3 separate regions of the Homo sapiens genome follow, and all the other regions are linked to region 1. Evidence: fine-mapped expression QTL. A gene starts in region 1. Each other region holds a variant in brackets. All regions are shown on one strand. Distances are from middle to middle.

What was found. PIP is the estimated chance that this variant, and not a neighbour inherited with it, causes the effect.
Region 2: its variant is the best candidate, but not a certain one, in a credible set for the expression of IL13RA1 in esophagus mucosa (GTEx, PIP 0.52).
Region 3: its variant is the best candidate, but not a certain one, in a credible set for the expression of IL13RA1 in whole blood (TOPMed, PIP 0.59).

The regions. Positions count from the first base shown.
Region 1 is chrX:118,725,698-118,728,546 of GRCh38, reverse strand. It overlaps IL13RA1 (interleukin 13 receptor subunit alpha 1), which reads right to left and starts at 941. Exons shown (of 11, transcript NM_001560.3): 1 at 821-941. The coding sequence starts at 908. RefSeq lists a silencer at 903-1,332.
Region 2 is chrX:118,593,085-118,595,584 of GRCh38, reverse strand. It overlaps DOCK11 (dedicator of cytokinesis 11), which reads right to left. Exons shown (of 53, transcript NM_144658.4): 20 at 2,248-2,371. Among named protein-coding and RNA genes, the nearest start is that of DOCK11, 99 kb to the right of the region's middle. The variant G/A (reference allele first, on the strand shown) is at 1,207.
Region 3 is chrX:118,549,735-118,552,234 of GRCh38, reverse strand. The region is part of intron 6 of DOCK11 (dedicator of cytokinesis 11); the gene reads right to left. Among named protein-coding and RNA genes, the nearest start is that of DOCK11, 55 kb to the right of the region's middle. The variant T/C (reference allele first, on the strand shown) is at 1,535.

The sequences.
Region 1 (2,849 bases):
GCTGCTCCTAAGGAAGTCATTAACTCCCAATTTTTCACAACTGCCAGGTTGATTAACTAGAAGTTACCAAACAGGGTGAGGGATATACACAACTCTCTGAAGTATCTTTGCAACTTTTCCATAAATCTACAATTACCCTAAAATATAAGGTTTATTAAAGAGAGTGGGGTGGGGGGAGCATCTGCCGGGATGCTATTCTGGATTTCCCAAAGGATTTCTTCGACGCCAGAGGAGGTCATGAGCGTCACGTCCTTTTTCAACAAGGACTGAGATGTTTAGAGGTTCCCTTCAACTTCCACTCGCAAGAGCCACCCTTAGACAGTGAGGATTGGCGCGGCCTCGGGCAAAGAGCCCCGGCGCGTTCTCAGCTCGCCTGGACTTCGGTCGTGGTCCCCGCCGGCTCTGGCGCCTCATTTCCTCCCGGGCTCACAGGCGACATTCCGGGCGCTGACCCACGGCCCTCTGACGCCGTGGGCATGTTTCGGGCCCCCCGCCCCCGCACGCCTGGACGCCAGCCTCCTGGGCTCTTCCCACTACAAGTCGCAGCCCTCTTACTTCGCTGCCGCCACCTCCGCCGCACCCGGAGTTCGGGAAAACCCCGCAGCTCCCGGGTCCCACCTCGAACCGGCCCCAGTACCGGGCCCCAGAGATCCCGCGCGGGAAGCCGCAGCCGCCGAGCGCGGGGCCTCGCGAGGGCAGCCCCCAGCACCCACCCCAGCTTCGGCCCTCCGCCCGGCGTTGACCTCCGGGGCCTTTCAGCCGTGACCCTCACCGCCCTCAGCCCTCCGGCCGCCCCTCGGGCCCCGAGGGTCGCACTCACCCGTAGGCGCGGCGCCCCCGCCCCCGCCCCCGCCGCCGGCGCAGAGCAGCAGCGCCCACAGCCCGCAGAGCCGCGCCGGCCACTCCATGCAGCCTCTCGCCTCGGAGCCCGGCCGGGCTGGAGCCTTGGCAGTCCCCGCCTCCTTCGCTCCCTCTTCCACTTCCCGGCTCCGCCGCCCTGGAGGCTGGGGGCCGGCGCAGACGGGAAGGGCCGCCCCGCCCACCGGCCTCAGGTAACCTGAGCCGGCGAGAGCGGCCGGAGGAGGCGGGGCGGGGCGCCGGCGGCTCTGGCGGCTCTGGCGGCTCCTACGGCTCCCAAGGCTGGACACCTGGCCCACCCGCAGCTCCCGCGTCCGGTCTCTGACCGAACAAAACTTCTTCCACCACGTCGCCGCCCACTCCGGGCGCTGCCTGGGCCTCCTCCCTCCGCGTGGCGGAGCCGGCGTCGCCGCTGCCAGCACACTTGCGGGGCCTCGGAGGTGCTAGGGGCTGTGCCCTGCTGGACACCAGGACAGAGTCATCTGCGGAAAAGAGCCTTGGCCTGGGAGTCTGGAGACCTGGCTTCCAGCCCTTGACCTCTGAGCCCTTGTTTGCTAGCGCTGACTCCAGGGTTAGTAATACCAGCCCTACTTCACTGGGTGGAGTTGGGGACACTGGCAGTACTGTGCTTTGTGAAAAGGACAAAGGGCATATTTGAAAGCTGGCAATACATAATGTTGATTTTAAAAGGAACATTCCAAACATGAGGGAGGATACCATACGTGCATTTTTTAAAGCACACGACAAACTTTCTACATATTTTTCAAAGGGATGGGAGGTGAATCGGAAGAATACACATTGATACTTGGGCGCCTATGAGGGTCAGTGAGGCTGGGAGGAAGGAAAACAAGAGTCCTTAGGCGTTTCCTGTTGCTGCTGTCAAAAATGACCACAAATTTAGTGATTTAACAGTTTTATTTTATTACAGTTCTGGAGGTCAGAAGTGACACTGAGCTTAAATCAAGGTGTGGGCAGAGATGTATTCCTTCTGGATATTCTAGGGGAGAATCTGTGTCTTTGACTTTTCCAGCTTCTAGAGGCTACCCACATTCCTTGGCTTGTTGCGGAACTACTCAGACCTCTGCTTCCCTTGTCGTATCTGACTCTGACCCTCTTACTTCCCCTTTTCCCTTATAAATACCCTTGTGATTAGATTAGGTCCACCAGATAATTCATAATAATCTCCCCATCTCAAAATCCTTGATTTAATCATAACTGAAAAGTCATTTTTGCTATGTAAGTTAACATATTCACAGGTGTTGGGGATCACGATATGGAATCATGGGAGGGGGACATTATTCTATCACCTTCTCCCAAAAAAGAATCATGTCTAGGTGGATGATGAGACCCATAATGAGGTGTATTTTGGCCGAATTAAGCCAATGCATATACCTGAAAACAGTTACAAAAAGTATAGCAATAAAAATGCTGATAATATACCTAGTCTAGACCCCACCCAAAGGGCACAGGGTTGTTTAACCTATTCACAACAAAGGTTCCACTCTTGGAATTAAGGCTCTCAAACTCAATAAATATTTATGAAATTGTTCCAGGAACTGTTGAAGACACTCACCAAAAGCAAGCTCTGCTAACAGAAAGCTGCAGTCAGTCTGAGGGGCAATGATAAGGGCAAGAACAAGGAATTATGGGATACAAAAAGGGTACCTTTTGGGAGGGAAGGAGCAAGGGAAGCTTCCAGGAGGAGGGCCTGCCTGTGCTGAATCTCAGGATGTTGATTCTTTTGGCTAACGGTTCAGAATAAATTCCAGAATCCAGGCATGGTGGCATGCACCTGTAATCCCAGCTATTCTGGAGGCTGAGGTGGAAGGATCACCTGAGCCCAGGAGTTCAAAACCAGCCTGGGTCTGTAACAGAGTGAGACCCCGTTCTCAAAAAAAAAAAAAATAAATCCTGGCTTGCATGTGTTATCGAACAAAATAATGTTTATGAAAACAGTTTGTAAAGTATCAAGGCCTGTAGAACTGAGAGAT
Region 2 (2,500 bases), 130 kb after region 1:
GGTTCTCATCGTTCTGCCAGTTTTCTTCTCAATCCTCAAAGCCCCTACCCTGAACTAACGGCAATTTCTATGGGGATAAAGAACATATCCATACTACCTGCAAAGGGAACTCCCTCATATTCAGTCCTGCTGCCTGCTGGGTATCACTCCAATGTCTCACTAGCACCTAAAACTCAACTGATGTCCCAAACCTGCCATCCCTACCCACAGTTTTGCTATTGGCAATACCTTCTTTCCAATCACCCAGTTTTGAAACTTCATTGCTAACTAAATCATCTCTCTAATAGCCAATCACTTTCCAGGTCCAATATGTTCTTCTTCTGCACTTCCCTTTCTCTCTGCCCCCGCTGCTACTGCCATAGTGTGGCCTCTTCCTTTCCTGGACTTTTGAAATAACCCTCTAACTGGTGTTCCTTTCTTCCTCTTCCTGCTTCTACTTGCCTTGCCCATTATACTGCTGCCTGGTTGGTTTTCCTGAAAAACTGCTCTAATGTTTAAAACCCTCCAATAGTTCTACTGTGGTGATAGAATAAAATAAAATCTATAGCCTGGTATTCAAGGCTTTCCAAAATCTGATGCCTCCTGTTCAACCTGACATCCTATGATCCCCCTCCTAGCACCCTGTGCTCCAGGCTTAGTGAACTACTTGTGGTTTCCTGTCCATGCCTCTTGATACTCTGCCTCTGTACAAGCTGTTCCTTCACCCCATAATCCCCTACATTCCTGCCATTGTTGCATTATCAAACCCCACCCAACCCTTTAAGGCCTCACTCAAACACCATCTCCTAGAAGCCTTCTCTGATTCTCAGCCACTCGTCTCTCCACCAGCTGAATAACTCGCTCTTCTGAGTTCACGTAGCACTACTTTCTTAAACACCACTTTCTATCTTGTATTATAATTGTTTACGCAGGACTCATTTCCCTTACTAGATCATATCCTCACTGAAGATGAGATCTGTGTTTGATTCTCCACTGTATTCTCCAAAGTGCCTACTACAATATCTTGTACATAATACAGTTTGAGTATCCCTTATCTGAAATTTTTAGGAACAGAAGTGTTTCAAATTTCTGATTTTTTCAGATTTTTTCAGAATATTTGCATAATACCAGTTGATATCTCAAATCCAAAAATCCAAAATATGAAATGTTCCAATAAGCATTTCCCTTGAAGATCTTGTCAGTGCTCAAAAAGTTTCCAATTTTGGA[G/A]CATTTTGGACTTGGGGATTTGGGATGCTCAACCTGTATGCAGAAATATTTGCTGAATGAATGAATGAGTGAATAATACAGACTAGCTGGGATCTGAATCTTAGGACATGCTGATGTTCGTAAAGTGCTTGTGATACAAGCTGTGTTCACAAGGCCTTCTATTTCTGCTAAGGGTGCTACCCATTGGTTTACGTAAAGCCTTGCTGAATGGGCCCATGACGAGAGCTTCACTGCTGAAGCTTATTCAAGTTTGTTAAATCAGTTATCTTCTCATTAGAACTAGTCAGCCCCCAACCTCCCTCTGGCTCACAGATGTCCCTGGCTCTGGGCTCACTTCCCTCTTCCTCAGTGAGCAGAACTGGAAAATTCTGGTTGCTGGGCAATTCTACATAAAAGAAATAACAAAAATACTGTATCGCAATATGTGTTTCTTTTTGAGAATAGCAATATTACTTTATGTTGCTTATAGTAGTCTAAGCACATTGGCAAGCATATGGACAATGATATTTGGTAGAAATACTAAAATGAACATATAATATGCATTTTACCAATGAACTTTTAAAATCAGAAATGTGCTTGATATGGTTTGGCTGTGTCCCAACCCAAATCTCAATGTGAATTGTATCTCCCAGAATTCCCAGGTGTTGTAGGAGGGACCCAGGGGGAGGTAATTGAATCATGGGGGCCGCTCTTTCCTGTGCTATTCTTGTGATAATGAATAAGTCTCACGAGATCTGGTGGGTTTATCAGGGGTTTCTGCTTTTGCTTCTTCCTCATTTTTCTCTTGCTGCTGCCAAGAAGTGCCTTTCACCTCTTGCTATGATTCTGAGGCCTCCTCAGCCATGTGGAAGTGTAAGGTTCAATTAAACTTCTTTTTCTTCCCAGTCTCTGGTACGTCTTTATCAGCAGCATGAAAATGAACTAATACAGTGGTTTTTGGTCAAGGGGAGAAGTGGTCTATAGCTTGGTGAAAAGAGGTTATACCCTGGACAGTTCCATTTCAAATAACTGTAGAGAGAGACATTTAAAGAGAACACGTACCTGGAGTTTCAACTGTGTCTTGCTTTTTGGTTGTTCCCTTTGTGTTAATTTCACAACTTACATGATAAAAAGTGAAAAGCAAATGATGTTTTTGATGTAGGTGAATGGGAAGCTCAATTTTAATCTGAAATGAAAGCAAAATTACACATGGAACTTCGTTTTCTCAAGCTGAAACTGTCAGACATTAGTTCAGTTTCATCATACTGCTCCAAAAATACTTCCTAAAGGACTGGCCAAGTGGCCAAATAGTAGG
Region 3 (2,500 bases), 180 kb after region 1:
TGCATTAAAGGCCATGTGGTTGCTTTCTCAAAAGATCTTATAAAGTTGGAATCTTCTAATTCCCTTTTATCAACTGCACTTTGCTGAGTCTCTTCTAATACTCTTTCCTTCGTTTTATTTTTGCACTTTCTCTCACGATGTGATTCCTCCCTTCCTTGCTATTAGAGTCCTCCCTCCCTCCCTTTTTTTTTTTTTTTGAGACAGAGTGTCGCTCTGTCACCCAGGCTGGAGTGCAGTGGCACAATCTTGGCTCACTGCAACCTCCACCTCTTAAACTCAGGTGATCCTCCCACTTAAGCCTCCAGAGTAGCTGGGACTATAGGAGTGCACCACCACGCCTAGCTAACTACCTTTGTATTTTTTGTAGAGGCGAGGTTTCGTCATGTTGCTCAGGCTGGTCATGAACGCCTGGGCAGATTCCTTTATTTCTAACAGTCAAAATGTCCAGCAAAACAACTCAGACCTATTTCTAAGATCAGTTTAAAGTTGCGCATAATTTCAAACTTTCCAAAGAACTGACTGTAATTTTTTTTTTAAGAGATCGAGTATTGCTCTGTCAGTCAGACTGGAGTACAGTCATGCAATCACAGCTCACTGTAGCTTTGACCTCCCAGGCTCAAGCGATCCTCCCACCTCAGCTTCTCAAGTAGCTGCAAATACAGGCATGCGTCACCATGCCCAGCTAATTTTTTTATTTTTTGAAGAGACAGGGCTCGCTATGTTGCCCAGGCTAGTTTCGAACTCCCAAACTCAAGCCATCTTCCTGCCTTGGCCTCCCAAAGTGCTAAGATTACAGGCATGAGCCACTATGCCCAGCACATAATTTTTAAAATTTAGAAATTTCTTAATGAATAAAGACGCTTAAACGTACACCTCTCTCTAAAAGGCACCAAGATGCCTTGCTTTTATTCCCTAGCAATTCCAGAGGGAACTGCAGGCCAGTGTCAAGCCACAGGGCATCAAATAAGCTCAGCTAAAACACAGGGAAGAAGCTTGGCTTATGGAGGCTGTTATTTGCCACTGAGTCATGGTTAATAACCAGATCTGCTCTTGCTTCCTAGTTAGTTTGCCATGAGTTTGCAGGGGCTATCGAAGCTTGGATTTTCCAAAAAGAAAAGATTCTTTGCTCTCAACTCTGCAAGCTCTGGCCCTGAGGTGCTGGTTGCTAAATCTACCAATGCTTCTTACCAGTGTGGGCTGGAGTTCCTAGCGGGCAGGGAACTCCAGATGCTCTAAGGATAAACCTGCCTCCAGGATTGGGGAAATGACTCAGATAATAGCACACCTGAGTCATCTTCCCATTTGCTTATGAGCTTCATTAGTATTCTTCACTTCAAACATTACCATAGTAGAAAAAAAATACATAGAAACTTTCCTCTCAAACTCTGTCAACCCTTTGTCTCAGTTCTTCTGCCTCTGCCTTTTCCAATTATCCAAGAGCTGGGTCAGCTGCTCACCTCATCTTTAGCTTTAGCCTCCTATGCCTGAAACAATCCAGACGTGATGCAGGAAGAACTTATATGATCCCCCACCC[T/C]GTAACAGAGCACTGAAAGGTACAAACCAGACTCTCCCAGTGTGCCTTTGTTCATAGGCCTGGACTTGTGCTTTGGCCTTCACTTCAAGTTCTAGCCTGGAAACTATAAAACTGCTCCCCCTTTTCAATCCTCTGCCCCATACACTCACTTGCCCTGTATTGATACAGAAAGAGAACATGAAAAAATGATGTGTCAACACTGCAGTTCCAACTAATTTCAATAATGTTGAACTAAATAACAGTTAAAACACTTTTTTTTTTTGAGATAAGGTGTCACTCTGTCACCCAGGCTGGAGTGCAGTGGCTCAATCTCGCCTCACTACAGCCTCGACCTCCCAGGCTGAAGTGATCCTCCTACTTCAATGTCCCAAGTACCTGGGACTACAGGGGAGCACCAATTCACATGGCTAATTTTGTTCATTTTTGTAGAGACAGGGTCTCGCTATGTTGCCTAGGCTGGTCTTAAACTCCTGGGTTCAAGTGATCCTCCCATATTGGCTTCCCAAACTGCTGGGATTATAGGCATGAACTACCACGCCTGGCCCAAAATACAATTATTAGAGGAAAAAGTAATCTTGGCAAAATGCCTCAGAAGGTTCTAGCTGAACCTTCCTCTGATTCCCATTCTAGCTGTGACAAATTCTGAAATACAACACTACTGCTATGGCTCAGGAGATGAAATCAGAAGAGTTTGAAATTCAAAATGGAGATTCATAATTTATAATGGAAAAGAGTGGGGATAAAGGAAACTCATAACCAGAAACAGCTCCCAAACCTCAATATGGCCTTTGCATTTCAAAGTATTTCCTATTAACTTTTTTTAAGCTGTGTAGTAGCCAGGCATGGTGGCTGATGCCTGTAATCTCAGAATTTTGGGAGGACAAGGTGGGAGGATCACTTGAGTCCAAGAGTTTGAGACCAGCCTGCACAACATAGGGAGACCCCATCTCTATCAAAAACAAACAA